2 separate regions of the Homo sapiens genome follow, and region 2 is linked to region 1. The links come from fine-mapping of genetic effects on plasma protein levels. A gene starts in region 1. The other region holds a variant in brackets. All regions are shown on one strand. Distances are from middle to middle.

Region 1 (8,000 bases):
GGCCCAAGGCAGGAGCATGGCGGCCACTCGGCCAGGCGGCCAGCAACGTGGGGGCCTGGGAGGAAGGCAGGAGGCCCGACGTCCTGGGCAGCGGTGGCGGCGGCTGCCCGAGCCCAGAGCCTGGGACGGGACTCAGGGCCGATGTGCACCCCAGGGCCGGGAGCGGCCAGGCCGGGCCTCCAGGGCTCCCATGGCGGAGCTCAGGAAGTGGGAGTGGAGCGAGCTGGCCGCGGGGCGGGGACAGGGAGCGCTGGGAGCCAGGCCGGCCTGTCGCAATCGCAGCCCAGGGAAGAGGAACAGGCTTGTCTGCCTCGATGCGGGGCGGGAGGGGCGGCCGGGAAAGCACGTGAGGGCCGCGGGGCCGGAACCGGCCTCCTCCCTTCTTCGGAAGCCCGATCGGGAGAGCGGACTGCGGACAGCCCTGGCCCAGCCGAGGGAAGGGCGGCGGGCCCGGGGTCAGCCCTTGGACAAGCCTCGCAGGGAGAGCAGAGGGAGTTCCAGAGAGCGCAAGGGACAGCTGGGTGCGGGATCTGGAAAGCGAGGGGCCCAGGACGGGCAGTCATGGAGAGGGCAGGGCGCGGGGACTGCAAGGCCGCAGAAGCAGCTCTGAGACCGAGGAGAACCGGCTGGCAGATGCCCGGGTTCCTCCCCCGTTGTCCTGCCCTACTGTGGGAGTTTTTCAGACAAATTACAAGGGACTAGCAAATCAGCCAGCCCCCCACGCTACCAACCCAGCCCAATCCGCACAGGAGTGGGCACAGGTCACCTAGGAGACCCTTGAGAGCTGTGCAGCTTGCCCTGCTCCCTGTCCTCAGGGAACCTCCCTCCCAAAGAGAGGGGGAGGATATGCGGAGGGGAGTCCTGGGGCCAGCAGGCTGGACCTGGGCACTCAGTCCCTCTGCTCTGGCTTCTTTGCCCATGAACCTTCAAACCCCTTAGAACTGGAGAAAGCTGAGAGCCCACGCAGTCCAGCCCCCTCACCTTAAGCATGGAGAGGGAGGCTAAGGGTGATACATAAGGGAACCGGGATTCCAGGGTGGCCTGGTCTCGTTCCTGCCCTGTTTCATCCTCCCATCTCCCTCAACCCAACACCCCACCCACCCGTGGAGTTACTTGCAGCTGCCCCCTTTTACACGTGGTTCTCTGGTCCCCAAGTTTCCGTCTTCCTAACTCCCACCTGTCCTTGAGGCTTCACTGAGGCTCTGGAAGGCAACCTCTGCCCTAGGTTGCACAGTCCCCGTGAAGACTGCCCTCTGTACCTGGCTGTCTTGTTTGCTTCCCACCAGGCTGTGAGTGCCACCATGGCCCAGGCTGAATCTTCAAGTCTGTGTTCCCCATGCTTAGCAGAGTCTGGCACATACCATGTGCCCAATAGGTATTTATGGAATAAATGAGTGATGGCCACATCACAGAGCCAGTCCACCGCAGAGCCAGCTACAATCTGGGTCTCCTGATGTCTAGGTCCCAACTCATTCCAGCAGTCCTGCCAACTCCTTGTGGCTCAGGGATGTCTCCCTTGGGATGAGGGGCTAACCTCTCTTGAGATAGGTCACTTGGGCACTATCCCCCTCCCTGAAGGACTCTGTTCAGCACTCGTCCTTACACTGGTCTGTCTAACTTCAGGTCTGATGTCTGGACAGGTGCAGGTGATGGGAAGTGTGCATGGGGAGGAGAGGTCACAAAAGGGGGAAAGGACCTGCCTAGGCTGTAGGCATTTCACTCTGTGAGGCTCTCTCCCCTCACCTGGTGCAGGCAGCTCACCGTACAGATGGGCCAAAGATGGCTGGAAAGGGCAGAAGTATCAGAACAGCATGCACTGCGCGGGGCTGCTGAGCCTTCCAGGGCCCTAGCGCTGGGGGCTGGGATGAGAGTCCCTGCTGAGCTCTTAAACGCGTAAAGGAATGTGTGTGTAGCGACCCTAGGTCCTTTTTTCTCTCTCTTCTTTTTACTTTTTACTGTGGAAATTCCACATGCAAGATAATATACCAAAAGAGAAAAAGTAATATTGGGAGTCTCCCATATACTCCTTACCCAGCTTCAACTCACTGTCAGTTTCATTTATTCTGTATACCCCCTCCCCCACCAACGCACACACTCTTCAAATCCCTCATTATTATTTTGAAGTAAATCCCAGACATCATATCATTTCATTTGAAAATATTTCAGGATTTTACCCTAAAAGACAGGGACTCTTTCTCTATTCTATTTTTCTTTTTTTCCCCACCCTGTCTTATGCTGCTGAGACCCTTTCTTTTAATAGAGGTGTAACATATAATACAATGAAACCGTAAGGTACACTGATCTTACAGATACAGCTCAGAGAGTCTTCACTTTTGTGTATTCTTGCATATCCCCCAACTGGTCCAGAACACCTCTTCTCTTCTCTTCTTTTCTCTTTTCCTTTCCATACAGAGTCTCGCTTTGTCGCCCAGGCTGGAGTGCAGTGGTGCAATCTCGGCTCACTACAACCTCTGCCTCCCAGGTTCAAACAATTCTCTGCCTCAACCTCCCGAGTAGCTGGGATTACGGGCGCCTGCCACCATGCCTGGCTGATTTTTGTATTTTTAGTAGAGATGGGGTTTCGCCATGTTGACCAGGCTGGTCTTGAACTCCTGATGTTGTGATCCACCCGCCTTGGCCTCCCAAAGTGCTGGGATTACAGGCGTGAGCCACGGCACCCGGCCCCAGAATGTTCCTTGCACTACAAATGTTTGCTACATGCCCTTCCCAGTCAAAGCTTCCTGCTTCACAGGTAACCACTATGTCCAGACCCCTTTTAACCCCAGCTGGCTGGACTGTATGTTTCTTTCTGCTGCCAGCCGTAAGCTGGCGCTTCAGCCCTCATGGACTCTCTACACCCTAAGGAACGAGCCCTGAGATCTGGGTTTTGATCCTGGCCCCATCACTTTATCTCTGTGTGCCTCTTTATTGTGTCAGTCAGCTACTGGTTTGCTTGCAGGTCTGTGGGATGGAGGTGGGATGGGAGGAGTGAAGCAGCCAGGCTATTTCTCTCCTCTCTGCTTTCTGGCTTCACCTGCAGTTGGTTGTCTTCCTTCCTTCCCCACTTCCATAATCCCATCTCCTACCAGTAGTCCACACTATTTAGTTCCTGCCAAATGGCTCTGGAGGCTTCTTGGTCTTTGATGCTACATCACCCTGCCATCTTTCCAGGCCTAGAGATGGTAGCTGCTTCCCGCTCTGCTGTTTTCTGAGCTGCCTCCCATTGTCTTCTCAGCTCCTCCATCACCCATGTACCAGTTAGTTCTCTGTGTTAAACTTCTTCTGTTTGAAAGACTTAGAGTGTTTCTTGTTTCCCAGCTGGATCACGAAAGACAAATCTTACCAATAAATGGCTACTATAATGCCCAGCCATCCCCAGGAGGATAAAGGGAGACTCCAGGGGTGAGAAATCCACAGGTTCACCGCGGGCAGGGCATTGTCTTTACTCCTGTCCTTTTGTGTTTTTCACCAGAGCCTCCTGAGACTGATTTCCACTGGGCAACACCAGACCCAGACCGAGCACCCCAGGACGCCTAGAAGGTGTGTGAGGGTGGGACTCTTCTCCCAGGCCTTCTTCCGAAGGAGCTGCTGAGAGAGCCTTCTTTCCACAGGCCCATTAGGCATCCAGAAAGGGGGCTGATGGAAATGGATTCTTCTTCTTCTTCTTCTTCTTTTTTTTTTTTTTTTGAGACAGAGTCTCAGTCTGTCGCCCAGGCTGGAGTGCAATGGTGCAATCTCAGCTCACTGCAACCTCCGCCTCCCAGGTTCAAGTGATTTTCCTGGCCTCAGCCTCCCAAGTTGAGTAGCTGGGACTACAGGCATGCGCCAACAGGCCCGGCTAATTTTTGTATTTTTAGTAGAGATGGTGTTTTGCCATGTTGGCCACAGGCTGGTTTTGAATTCCTGGTCTCAAGTCATTTCGCCCACCTTAGCCTCCCAAAGTACTGGGATTACAGGCACGAGCCACTGTACCCGGCCAGGAATGGATTCTTCTAAATACTTTTTCTTTCTCTCTTCTTCTCCACTCTGCTCTTAGCTGACTAGTGCTCTTGGAAATGGTCTGGCAAACACCCAGAAGTGCATAACAGATGAGGGTTGTCCTTTTCCAGAGTATTTGCATTTTCAGTGGTGACAATGCCTTAACCCAGTCTTTTCAACGGGGGTGACTTTGCCCCCCAGAAGTCATTTGGCAATATTTGGAGATGTTTTGGTCACAATGACTCAGGAGGTGCTACTAGCATCTAATAGATGGAAGCCAGGGATGCTGCTGAACATCCTGCACAGGATTGTAGATAGGACAGAATCATCCTGTCCCACCACAAAGAATGATACAGCCGAAAATGTCAATAGTGCCAAGGTTGATAAACCCTGTCTTCAATCAAAGTGATAAACTTCTAGTAGTGAACTTCTTTTTTTGTTTTTTTTTTTGTTTTTTTTTTTTTTGAGACAGAGTCTTGCTTTGTCTCCCAGGCTGGAGTGCAGTGGCACGATCTTGGCTCACTCCAAGCTCCACCTCCCCGGTTTTATGCCATTCTCCTGCCTCAGCCTCCCGAGTAGCTGGGACTACAGGCGTGCACCACTTATGCCCAGCTAATTTTTTTTGTAATTTTAGTAGAGACGGGGTTTCACCATGTTAGCCAGGATGGCCTCGATCCCCTGACCTCATGATCCACCCGCCTCGGCCTCCCAAAGTGCTGGGATTACAGGCGTGAGCCACCATGCCCGGCCAACTTCTAGTAGTGAACTTCTAAGTAAACTGCCAGGGGACTAGATGAAGAGTGGCATTTTTCTGGTCCATCATTTTAAATGAAAGAGAAATCTGTACCACATAAGGGCAGCTGAAAGGACTGTTGTCTTCCACAGTGGGCAGCCCCCAGTGTGAAGTGGCTAATTAGCTCCAAGTAGTAAGAATAAAGAGTTGCATTTAACTAAGTAACTGATTCTTATCCTGGAAAGGATAGAAGTGAACAGGGAAAAGTGAAGAAAATTTAGATAAATTAATAGACCACAAATAAATGGGTTGTCAGAGGAAGTTAGGATGTTTGAAGTTTTGCAGATGCTTTTTCGTAGCATATCCCGCTCTGTCAAAGATAAACTAGGAAAGACGCCAGTTCTGCTGTCTTCTGCAGACTGGGTCAGCAAACAGTGACCGCTAGACACTGAGGTCACCAAGATGAATACGCCTGGTCTCTGTCCTTGTGTTGCGGGAAGTCAGGGACCCCAAACGGATGTATACGTACAAACACACATACATCAGGATAATAGTAAATAATAATAATAAATAATAGTAAACAGTGGTAAGTGCAGAGATAGGCTCTCCCTAGGAGGGTGGAGTGATTACTTCCGTCATCTCCTGTCCGCGGAGAACAAGAGGCAGGAAGACCCTTTGCACTCATAACCCTCATCCCATGGCAGCCCCTCTGGTTTCACTTCTCTCCCTGCAGCCGTGCATATTTTATGGCCACACCACAGGGTTAGAGGATAGCTGGTGTTGGGAGGGGAAGGCAGCCCTGGGTTGGCGGGAAGGGCTGGGGCTCTGGGGGAGTCTGGGGGTAGTCCTGGGAAGGCAGGGGGTCCTTCCAAGACAGAGTCTACAAAGCTCTTGACTTCTTATAGAACAAAACTGTACTTCTCTCAAAGTCAGAGAAGGAGAACTGGGCTTGGAAAGGAGTGGCCTGGTTTTCAGTCTGACCCCACCCCTAACTCCTGGGTGACTGTGGCCAAGTCACTTTGCTTCTGTGGGCCTCAGTCCCCTCATGCATGAAGCAGGGGGCTAGATGCAAGGTCAGCTGGAAAAAGTCTTTGTCCATCTGGGTTGCCTTACCCACCCCTTCTTGCCCTTTCATTTTCTCAGGTAAGATCACCGGGGCCCATAGAGGTCAAGTGCCTTTCTCAAAGTCACATAGTTTAAAAGCAAAAATAGGGGCTGAGTATGGTGGCTCACACTTGTAATCCCAGCACTTTGGGAGGCTGAGGCAGGAGGACTGCTTGAGCCTAGGAGTTGGAGGCTGCAGTGAGCCATGATCATGCTGCTGTACTCCAGCCTAGAGGATAGTGCATGATCCTGTCTCTAAGATAAATAAGAAAATAAAAGCAAAAATGGAAGTTGTAGAAACATACCTATAGCATGGTCTCTGTCATAAAAAAGAACTATATATTTTGTTTTTTAAAAATACATGTAAGTTTATAAAGGCACACAAAAAGATATAGACAGATATACAAATTATGGTGGCTCCCCTTTGGGGAGGGAAAGGAAGGGGACTAAGGGAAGCTCTATATACTTCTGTATTGCTGAAAAATTGTACTGTGACAAAAACATATTTGTGTATTATTTGTACACTTTAAAAGATCATCTTTAAAATGGACTTCTGACCAAAGTCCAGGTCTCAGATTTCTATTTTCCTCACAACACCAAGCCTGTTCTAGCCCGCTCCAGGTCTAGAATGCTGCAGCACTAGGCTCGCATTGCCACTCCCATACCCGGCAGGACGTGGCAGGGTCACCACCCTTTGGCTCAGCCCAGACCAGGCATTGCAATTCTTCTCACAGAGCCCTTGATATGAAAACTATTTGCCATGCTGCCTTAAGCTAGTGGTTGGATTTCAGGCATGAGCTGGCAAATAGAAAAGGCAGGGAGGTGCTTTTCAGAACCTTTGAGATCAAACAGCCAGGGTGCTGAGCACCTTATTGCAGGGAGGACCATGCCCAATGTAAGGACCTGGCTCAAGGGAGACTGGAGTTTCTAGGGGTCTCTGGGATATGTGGGGCAGTGGGGACAGTGCAGAGACCTTTTCACAGAGCCAAGGAGATAACCCAGCACCCAGAGAGCAGACGAATCCACGGGCTCTGTGTGGGAGTGAGGGAGGCCTTCCCGGCTTTCACATCCAGGTGCACCTGAGCCCCGATCCCCCATGAGTCTGTCTCAGGAAGTAAATGGCAAAAGCGCTAAGTAGATAGCCCCAGAGGAGGAGGAGAATTCTGAATTCTGTTTATAGCTCTGCTCCTATTTTGTTTTCTAACCTCAGAAAACTGATTTATCCTTGGGAAGGGTCAGTTTCTTCATTAGGACAATGAAGAAAAATCCAGCTGTCCCTTCCAAGGGGAGGTATCATGAGCAGTATCAAGGTAAGCAAGGGAACCTGGTTTGGAATCCTGGTTGACACCGGCTTTCACTTTAAGAAGTCGCAAGAGACTGCCGCAAGAGAGGAAGCCACAGACCAGGTTGGACCCTGAGCCTGGAGTACTGCCTTTTCTCTTCTTTGCCTGCTAAACTCCTTGCTTGTCAAGATTCAGCAGAGATGACACCTTCTCTGGGAAGGCTTCCTGAGTCTCCTGCAGTGAGCCCCTAGGCTCCCCTAGCCCTTGGCTCTTATGTCTTATCTCTGAGAAATCTGAGATCTGCACTTTTGTTAGAAGTCCGTTTTAAAGACAATCTTTTAAAGTGTACAAATAGAAACCTTATCTTATTGTATTGCAGGCCTATCTCCTCCCCCGGTGTGTATCAATGCTCAGGCTGGGCCTTTGTCTGCTGGCTTGTGGAGGGAGGCAGGACAAGCCAGTGACCACATTCCTGCACTCTGGGCTGCCTCCTGTGGGGCCCGTGAGGAAGCGGCAGCCTTCCCTGCCGCGTGCAGGGCCTGGGTTGTGTGGGTGGCTCTCCCGAGTCTCCTCCAGCCCTTTTTGGGTCTGATTCTCTGACCCTCCTCTCTCTCCTTGCTCACCACTTGGCACTCCACTCCTTATCCTTTTGCTGCATTAAGTTTGGAAAGAGATTTTGGAGAAAATATAGCCCATCAACGAATTTCTCCTCCTCCCAGGGCCTGTCTAGGCGTGTGCCATGCCCACCCTCTTCCTTTCCAGCGCTGGCCACATCCTCCCTGCACCTTCAGTGCCTGCTTTCCCTGCCTCTTCCTGGGCTCCGGGTCTGTGTCCACAGTGTCCTGCGTGGCCCTCGCGCTGCCTCTGGTTGCCCACATTCCTGCAACTCTGTGACCACAGCA
Region 2 (10,569 bases), 18 kb before region 1:
GGGCTTCCAAAGTGCTGAGATTATAGGCGTGAGCCACTGCACACTGCCGAATGATCCAATTTAATAACAAGCAAAATATCTAAAGAGACACTTCAGAAAATAAAATACCTGGATGGCAAATAAGCATATGAAAGTTGGTTAACAGCATTTGTCATTAGAGAAATGAAAATTAAAACCACAATGAGGTACCACTGCTCACCTACTACAATTTCTAAAACACTGCCACCAACCACCAAATGCTGGTCTTACTAGAATTTCTAAAACACTGCCACCAACCACCAAATGCTGGTCTTACTAGAATTTCTAACACACTGCCACCAACCACCAAATGCTAGTCGTGCTACAATTTCTAAAACACTGCCACCAACCACCAAATGCTGGTCTTACTACAATTTCTAAAACACTGCCACCAACCACCAAATACTGGTCTTACCAGAATTTCTAAAACACTGCCACCATCATCACGAGGTCAGGAGATTGAGACCATCCTGGCTAACATGGTTAAACCCCACCTCTATTAAAAATAAAAAAAATTAGCTGGGTGTGGTGATGGGCGCCTATAGTCCCAGCTACTCAGGAGGCTGAGGCAGGAGAATGGCGTGAACCCGGGAGGCGGAGCTTGCAGTGAGCCGAGATCGCGCCACTGCACTCCAGCCTGGGTGACAGAGCAAGACTCCGTCTCAAAAAAATAAATAAATAAAATAAATAAAAATAAAAAATAAAAAAAAACACTGCCACCATCACCAAATGCTGGTCCTACTAGAATTTCTAAAACACTGCCACCAACCACCAAATGCTGGTCTTACTAGAATTTCTAAAACTGCCACCAACCACCAAATGCTGGTCTTACTAGAATTTCTAAAACACTGCCACCATCACCAAATGCTGGTCTTACTAGAATTTCTAAAACACTGCCACCATCACCAAATGCGGGTGAAGATGTGCAACAGGAACTCTCATTCATTGCTTTTGGGAATGCAAAATGATATAGTCACTTTGGAGACAGGTTGGCAGTTGCTTTTTCCTTTTTCTTTTCTTTTTTTTTTTCACTTTGTGAGACAGTCTCGCTCTGTCTCCCAGGCTGGAGTGCAGGGTGGGATCACATCTCACTGCAGCCTCGACCTCCCGGGCTCTAGAAATCCTTTCACCTCAGCCCCTCAAGTAGGTGGGACTAGAAGCACACATCAGCACACCAGGCTAATTTTTGTATTTTTTTTTGTGAGACAGGGTTTAGCCATGTTGCCTAGGCTAGTCTCGAGCTTGTGGACTTAAGCGATCTGCCTGTCTCAGCATAAGGAAAGACAGAAACTGTCACAGATCAGAGAAGACTAAATATTAAGGGATCATAATCACTAAGTGCAATGTGGTATCCTGGATTGGATTCTGGAACAGAAAAAGGATTTAAGGAAAAAAACTGGTGAAATCTAAATAAAATCTGTAGTTTAGTTGATATGTTAATTTCTTAATTAGTTTTGACAAATGTATCATGGCTATGTGAGATATTAACATTAAGGGCAGCTGGGTGAAAGGTATACCAAAACCCTCTGTACTATCTTTGCAACTTTTCTGTAATTCTAAAATTTTTCCAAACTAAAAACTCATTAAGAAAAAAAACCCAAATGAGCCAGGCGTGATGGTTCATGTCTGTAATCCCAGCACTTCGGGAGGCCGAAATGGGCAGATGGCTTGAGGCCAGGAGTTCAAGGCCAGCTTGGCCAACATGGCGAAACCCCGTCGCTACTAAAAATACAAAAATTAGCCAGGTGAGTGGGCGCCTGTAATCCCAGCTACTCGGGAGGCTGAGGCAGGAGAATCGCTTGAACCTGGGAGGCAGAGGTTGCAGTGAGCCAGGATAGCACCGCTGCACTCCAGCCTGAGCGACAAGAGGGAGACTCCATCTTAAAAACAAACAAACAAACAAATACTAACTGATGGGGATATAAGTCAAAATAGGAAAGTGGATATCTCTGGGATGTCATATGTCTGCCAGAATATAAACTGGAACTCAAGCAGTAAGCATGACTGAGTGGAAAGTGGCATGAAGTTATCTTCTAAGGAAGTAAAATGTTGCATATCTTCTGTGATGGTAACATGGGTATATACCTATGTAACACTTCTTCAGGCTATACACTTAAGATTAATATACTTTATATACTTTACAGGCCGGGTGAAGTGGCTCATGACTGTAATCCAAGTACTTTGGGAGGCCAAGGCAGGTGGATCACTTGAGGTCAGGAGTTCGAGACCAGCCTGGCCAACATGGTGAAACCCCATCACTACTAATAATACAAAAATTAGCCAGGTGTGGTGGTGCACGCCTGTAGTCCCAGCTACTAGGGAAGCTGAGACAGGAGAATCTCTTGAACCTGGGAGGCAGAGGTTGCAGTGAGCCGAGATTATGCCACTGCACTTCAGCCTGGGCAACAGAGTGAAAAAAAAAATATATATACACACACACACACACACACACACACACATATTTTATATATATGTGTGTATATATACACTATATACACATATTTTATATGTATGTGTGTATATATACACACACACACACATATAACATATATATTTATATATATATACTTTACTACACTGGAAAAAAATTTTACTGGTTTCCTATTGCTCTTAGGGTAAAGTTCAAAATTGCTGTAGTCTGTAAGTCTGAATGACGTGTTACCCGCCTACTTCTCTAGCTTCATCTCTCTATTCCCAAGTTCCAGCCAAACTATTCTTCCTATCACAGGGCCTTTGCACGTACCATTTAACCCACCAGCAGAGCTCTCCTCTCCAACACCCCTTCAATTTGGCTAGCCCTTATTTATTCTTCAGGTTGTATCTTAAATTTCCTCAGGGAGGAATTTCCTCATCTCCAGACCTAGAATCGGTCACTGGTTATATGTTGTGCTTCTCTTTTGTAGCACTTGTCTACAAAAGCAATAATTGTGATTATTTTACAAGCTCCAGAAGTTTATGTATCAGGTCTGTCTCGTTGGCTGTTGTATCTTAAGATGACTAGTACATAGTAAATTCTCACTTAATGTTTACCAAATGTTAATTTGAATGTGAGGCTCAGATTAAACAAACTAATACCCAAGGCCATAAAATATGAGCTGGGACCCACGCCCACCAATAAATCCTGTTGACTCTATCTCTAAGGCATATCTCCAACCTTCCACCTTTCTCCATCTCCCTATTGCAGTAGCCTTTGATCTGGTCTTTCCGTTTCTATTATTTATTCATTATCCATTGGATTATTATGAAATAATAAGATATGGATACTTCCTTAGCATAATAAAATAAATATACGTATTTCAACTGCTGCTTAATGAGAAAATACTGGAAGTATTGCCCTTAAAATCAGGATTGAGACAGAGCTGTCCATTACTATTTACTATTGTTCTGGAGGTACTATGAGATGCATTTAGATGAGATTTAAAAATATTAGGGCCAGGCGCGGTGGCTCACGCCTGTAATCCCAGCACTTTGGGAGGCCAAGGTGGGCAGATTGCTTGAGCCTAGGAGTTCAATACCAGCCTGGGCAACATGGCAATAACTTGTTTCTAGAAAAATTATTATGAAATTAGCATTATTTGTAGGTGATAACCTAAGAAAATTAATTGAAAAACTGTTATAGGCCAGGTGCGGTGGCTCACACCTGTAATCCCAGCACTTTGGGAGGCCAAGGTGGGCAGATTGCTTGAGCCTAGGAGTTCGGTACCAGCCTGGGCAACATGGCAATAACTTGTTTCTAGAAAAATTACTATGAAATTAGCATTATTTGTAGGTGATAACCTAAGAAAATTAATTGAAAAACTGTTATAGGCCAGGTGTGGTGGCTCACACCTGTAATCCCAGCACTTTGGGAGGCCAAGGTGGGCAGATTGCTTGAGCCTAGGAGTTCGGTACCAGCCTGGGCAACATGGCAATAACTTGTTTCTAGAAAAATTATTACAAAATTAGCATTATTTGTAGGTGATAACCTAAGAAAATTAATTGAAAAACTGTTATAGGCCAGGCGCGGTGGCTCACGCCTGTAATCCCAGCACTTTGGGAGGTCGAGGTGGGCAGATCATAAGGTCAGGAGATCGAGACTATCCTGGCTAACACGGTGAAACCCCGTCTGTACTAAAAATACAAAAAATTAGGCGGGCGTGGTGGCGGGCGCCTGTAGTCTCAGCTACTAGGGAGGGTGAGGCAGGAGAATGGCGTGAACCCGGGAGGCGGAGCTTGCAGTGAGCTGAGATCACACCACTGCACTCCAGCCTGGGTGACAGAGTGAGACTCTGTCTCAGAAAAGAAACAAAAACAAAACAAAACAAAAAAACTATTATAGATCATGAGGGAATTCAGTAGGTGGCTGGGGAAAAAGAAAGAAAACAAAACTAAAAAATCCCATTTTTATAGCACTTATAAAGGTAAAACACCAAGGAATGACTATAATGAGAAATGCCCATATTAAGGAAACATTAAAATGCTACTGAGGACACAAAGAGGAGGGTATCAACAAATAGAAGGGTATATCATGTTCTTGAAAAGAAGACCCGGCCCGGCACGGTAGCTCATGCCTGTAATCCCAGCACTTTGGAAGGCTGAGGCAGGTGGATCACTTGAGGTCAGGAGTTCGAGACCAGCTTGGCCAATATGGTGAAACCCCATCTCTACTAAAAATACAAAAATTAGTCGGGCATGGTAGCATGCACCTGTAATCCCAGCTACTCAGGAGGCTGAGGCAGGAGAATCGCTTGAACCCGGGAGGCGGAGGTTGCAGTGAGCCGAGATCGCACCACTGCACTCCAGCCTGGGTGACAGAGCGAAACTCTGTCTCAAATTAAAAACAAACAAACAAACCCAACACACTAATTGATTTGTAAATTCAATACAATCTCAAAACACATCCTCAAAGGAGCCTTTCTTTTGGAGGGGGAGTGAACTAAATAAACAGGTCCTAAAATTCATGTGGAAAAGGAAGAAAATATAGTTAGAAAAATTCTTAAAAACAGAGAATAAAAGGAGCTACTGGCCCTAATAGATATTAAAATATAAAGCTAAAACAATTGAAAGACTGTAATGTTGGCAAATTGAAAAGACGGATCAATGAGAGAGAATTGAAAATCCAGAAGTAAATTCAAACTTGCACAAAAACTTGGCTTATCATAACAGTAGTTTTAAATTAGTGAAGAAAAAATTATTGTTCAATAGATGACTGGAGATAAAAAGATAACATTTGAAAACTAATAGAAATATAGGAGGCCAAGTGTGATGGCTCACACCTGTAATCCCAGCACTTTGAAGACTGAGGCAGAAGGAGCTCAGGAGTTTGAGACCAGCCTGGGCAACATGGTGAAACCTCATCTCTACAAAAAATTTAAAAAGTAACCTGGCGTGGTGGTGTGTGTCTGTAGTCCCAGCTACTGGAGAGAGGCTGAGGTGGGAGAATCACTTGAGCCTGGGAGGTGGAGGCTGCAGAGAGTTGTGATTGGGCCACTGCACTCCAGCCTGGGTGACAGAGCAAGACCCTGTCAAAAAAAAAAAAAAAAAGAAAAATAGAGATATGAACAGTCAGTAGAAAATAAATTACAACTGGCTCTTTAACATATGAAATGTTCACTCATATGAAATGAAATACTCATTCACAGTGAAGTGAAAAACTTCACTCGCAATAAGAAATCCAAATAAAAATTACACTGAGATAACTTTTTTTTTTCTATCTTTCAGTTTGGCAAAGATCAAAATATTTGATAACACATCAAAGTTGGTGTTTATGTAAGGAAATGGACACTTAAAAATTTCCGATGTTCGGCCGGGCACGGTGGCTCATGCCTGTAATCCCAGCACTTTGGGAGGCCGAGACGGGCGGATCACAAGGTCAGGAGATCAACACCATCCTGGCTAACACGGTGAAACCCTATCTCTACTAAAAATACAAAAAAATTAGCCGGGTGTGGTGGCAGGCGCCTGTAGTCCCAGCTACTCAGGAGACTGAGGCAGGAGAATGGCGTGAACCCGGGAGGCGGAGCTTGCAGTGAGCCCAGATTGCGCCACTGCACTCCAGCCTGGGTGACAGAGTGAGACTCCATCTCAAAAAAAAAAAAA[T/AT]TCCGATATTCCATCTCTATGGAAGACAAATTAGCAACATTTATCAAAACGAAATGTATGTACCTTTTAACCAGGAAATTTTATTTCCAGCAATTTTTTTTGTAGCAGTACTTCCACATGTGCAAAATGACATAGGTTATTACTGTAGTGTTGTCTGTAATAGTAAAGGTTGGAGATGAATTAAAAATTCTCAAAAGGGATCCAGTTAAATGGTACAGCCAGGTGATAGAATACCACACAGATAGAAAAATGAATGAGAACTTTTTTTGGTACTAATATGGTATTATGGCCAAGCTCTTTTAATAAATGAAAAAGGCAAGGGGAAGAACTTACAGAACATCGTGTACAGTAGTCCACCCTCCTCCAAGGGGGATACATTCCAAGGCCCCCAGTGGATGCCTGAAACCGTGGATAGCACTGAACCCGATTGCTGTCAGTCAAAACACGTTTCTGTTCATGTCTTCCACCCAGAAATTTGATGCCTTTTCCAACTTAACTAAGCACTTATCATGCACCATGACTTTTGCAGTTTAAGGTGTGACAGCAAAACTAGTTTGAATTTCTTTTTTTCTGCTTCACAACTTCATGAATAGAAGGTGCATTGTTATGCAGATCTTAGCAAAGTCATCAAAGGAAGCATATTATGGCTTCTCTTTGGCATATCTGAATGACCAGTATCACCACTCTTGCACTTTGAGGCCATTATGAAGTAAAATAAGGGTGACTTGAACACAAGCATGCAATATCTCAACAGTTGGTCTGATCACTGGGAAGGCTTGTAAGTGACTAAGGGGTAGGGAGCGTCTGCAGGGAGGAGATGCTGGACAAAGGGAGAATTCATGTCTTGAAGGGACAGGAGTAGTGTTACCAACCACAGGGCCTTGGGGGTTGTTAATGCAATAGAAGTTAACATGAGGCCAAAAGAGTTTTCCCAGACAAGGCTTTATTAGAGCTTATGCAGGGCATAAGGGAGGCAGCACGAGAGAGAGAATTCTCTGGCTGGCTCCTGGAAGAGACTCAAGAGAACTAAAGGAACTAAAGGAGAATTAAAGGAACTAAAGTGGGAAGGGAGTGAGTTTGAGCAGGTAGAGATGAGGAAATTTTGGCACCTGTTCAGTTTGATAACATGCTTCTTTATGCATCGTGTGTCTCATTAGCATGTTAAGTCTCCACCCCGGTGTGATTTTTAGTATTATAATGAAGATAAGGCAAAGGAGCGCTCATTCTTCTGGTCCTGTGGTATACATACGGGAGATAGGGTTAACTCCTTTGAGTAAGATTCAAGGTGGGAGCTGCTTATTTTAATTTCTACAACTAGTGGGTTTGGCACCTGGAGTAAGATTTATGGTGGGACGTTGTTCATCTTAGTCTCTCTAAGGGTCTGCGATGAGTGGGTATAGTACCTTGAGCAAGATTCATGGTGCAAGGTCTGGACAGTCTGGTTGGGGTCCTCACTGGCCACACACCCCCACCCCAGCTTACAATAGAGGTTCTTGGTAGGGCACGAGTGGGGCCCGAGTCCCATCCCTACTCTGTCTCAGTAGGACAGCTTGAGGTTTCATCATGCTGTTCAGAACAGTGCACAATTTAAAACAGATGAATTGTTTCTTTCCGGAATTTTCCATTTAATATTTTTGGACCACAGTTGACAGCAGATAACTGAAACCATGGAAAGCAAAATCACAAACAAGAAAAAAAAATAACAAACAAGGGGGGACTACTGTAGTACCATCTGTAGAAATAAAAAAGCAAAGGAATCTATTTATATATATTTGTTTGAATATGCATAAATTACCTCTGGAAAAGCATCAGAAACAGTAACATTGGTTGCTTCCAGAGCAGGGACCTTGGTGGTTGGGGGATAGGAGTGAAAGAGAGACATTTCACTGTTTACTCTTTGATACTTTTTGAATTTTGACCCATGTGAATAAATCAACCATCCGAAAGAGAGGAAATAAATACAATTAAAACTAAAAAAGAAAAGGAACACCAAACACTATGATTTACACAAATGGGAACTTTTTTTTTCTCTCATAAAAAGAAGCCCAGGAGTAGGTGCTGTGCTTACTTACTGTTGATTTGGGTCTCAGTGATGCCTTGGGAGCCAGGTTCTGTCCTTTCTTCCAGGTCCTCAGAGGACTGGCTTTTTATCCCCGTGGCGGTTTCCTCATGATGGTAAGATGGCTGCCACAGCTCAGGAGTGATGTTGTCACACGCAAAATCCCCAAAACAAAAAATAAGGGCCAAGGCAAACCAAAAACTTTCTCCTAATGGTGCTTTATACCCTGGAAAGGAAGACTTCCCTGTGCATGTCATTGTACAATTGCAAAGAAGAATGAGTTTATTGGCTCCTGGGATTGGGGGAAGGGCCTCTTCTCCTGATGTCACGGAATCTCTGCTCTAGTACAAAAATGCGGTTCTGTCCTTAGGAAATGTGCAGAAGTCTGTTGGACAGGCAGCAGAAAGAGTCCACCACAGCTGTCTATGTGAACCGCTTTATCTTTTGAAAAGGGAAGTTCTTACTGACCCTTGTTGGGCTGACCCTGCCGGTACTCACAGTGCTTCCTGCGGGAAAAGACTAGAGTGAGTCTCCTGTGAAGTCTCAGACTGGTGGGGAAGCCGAACGCCCACCTCCCATCCACTGTGTCCACTGGAGAAACCGAGCATCCAGGGACTCCTCTGCGTGTGGCACTGTGCGGGCTTGGGGAGGAGTGGCGTGGTCAGAAAGCAGCCATCCCCTTACCGTCCTCATGGTTTTTCTTGGCTCTGCCATCCCAGGGGATGCAAAGCTTCACTCCAAGTTCTGGGATATTCAGGGTGGTAAACTTGCCACAGGATTGTTGCTAGTTGAAATTCTGTTGGGGAGGAGAGAAGCCGGAGAACTCCTACTTTGACATTGTGTTGATGCCACTCTCAAAAAGGGAAATTCTGAATTACCCCATCCTCCCCCATCTCCCTGTGCTACTGCTCTGTCCCCAGTTCCATCCACCTTTCTTCTGGACTACAGCCTTGGCCCCCTAACGGGTGTCCCACCCCCGTGTTGATGTGGGTTGGACTTGGTGTTAGCTTTCTCCTCCCTGTGGTAGAGGATTAGGGTTCTCACAACCAACAGTTACCCCATTGTCAACTGCCATTGCATCCTGTTGCATCTTTTGAAGACCACCATCAAGAGGCTGTCTTTGTTGGTTTTCTGCCAGCTTTTCCTTGTAGACAGGAGCTCCCCTCTACGTGGCCTGTGCTCTGTGGATGTGTCCTGGAGCCTGTACTGACTCCACACTGGCAAAATAGACATGGGTAATGCTGTGGGTGGAACTGTGTCTCCCTCCAAAATCCACGTGCTGAAGCCCTAACTCCCAGGACCTCAGAATGGGGCCTTATTTGGAGACAGGGGCTTTAAAGAGGTGACTAAGTTAAAATGAGGTCATCAGGATGGGCCCTAATCCACTAAGAGAAGATTAGGACACACTCATGCACAAAGGCAAGACCATGTGAAGACATAGGTGGCAGGAAGGCCACCATTAGCAGGCCAAGGACAGAGGCCTCAGAGGACACCAACCTTGCCAACACGTTGACCTCTGACTTCCAGCCTCCAGAGCTGTGAGAAGATAAATCTCTGCAGCTTAAGCTATCGAGTCTGCAGTACTTTGTTATGGCGGCCCTAGAAAATTAATTTAGGCAGCCCAGGTGCAGTGGCTCATGCCTGCAATCTCAGCTCTTTGGGAGGCTGAGGTGGGAGGATCACTTGATCCCAGGAGTTTGAGACCAGCCTGGACAACATAGCAAGACCCCACTTCTTAAAAAAGAAATTAAAAAAAAATTAGCCAGGTGTGGTGGCACGCATCTGTAGCTCTAGCTACGTGGGAGGCTGAGGTAGGAAGATCATTTGAGTCTAGGAGCTGAGGCTATATGAGCCACGATTATACCACTGCACTCAAGCCAGGGCGACACAGTAAGACCCTGTCTCTAAAAAAATACAGGCAGGTATAATTATAAATTTGAATGGTGTCACAAAGGGCTGTGCTTCAGCATCATTTCTTTCAAAATATTTTCCTCCTTTTATTTTGTTGAAAAAAATGTATAAAATTTGTTTTTTATCTAAACACATTAGAACAATTATTAAGAATTCATGAGGTCTGGCCCCAGCATATTGCAGGGGCAGGAGGATTTAACTTTATTTAAAGATACAGCTCACCATTATTTACTTTTCAAAAAAGGAAGTTGGATGTGATATTTTCACAGTCAACCTTAAATGACCCATCCACTCCATTGGATCAGACGCCTTCTGAGGTGTGTGTTTTGCAGCCGCCCCACCCTGATGAGCTCCAGCGACAGAGTTCCTCATATCAGACCCATGAGAGTGGCCTTTTATGGAAGGAGCAGCCGGCTGGCAGCAGCTCCCTAACAATCCTGCAAGCTAAGATCCTCTCGACCGAGCACAGGAGAGAATTCAGGGGCAGGGAGGGGCAAACATTT

What was found. PIP is the chance, under the fine-mapping model, that this variant and not a neighbour inherited with it causes the effect. Protein levels are from antibody-based Olink assays in UK Biobank. Linkage for the fine-mapping came from a reference panel and not from the study's own genotypes, which makes the PIPs less certain.
Region 2: its variant is fine-mapped to the plasma level of the LTBR protein (UK Biobank, PIP above 0.99).

Annotation. Positions count from the first base shown.
Region 1 is chr12:6,376,377-6,384,376 of GRCh38, reverse strand. LTBR (lymphotoxin beta receptor) reads right to left here and starts at 215. Exons shown (of 10, transcript NM_002342.3): 1 at 1-215. The coding sequence starts at 18. It also overlaps a transcript of SCNN1A not described here. RefSeq lists enhancers at 297-1,162, 7,382-7,986.
Region 2 is chr12:6,392,599-6,403,167 of GRCh38, reverse strand. No RefSeq gene overlaps it. Among named protein-coding and RNA genes, the nearest start is that of LTBR, 14 kb to the right of the region's middle. The variant T/AT (reference allele first, on the strand shown) is at 6,097.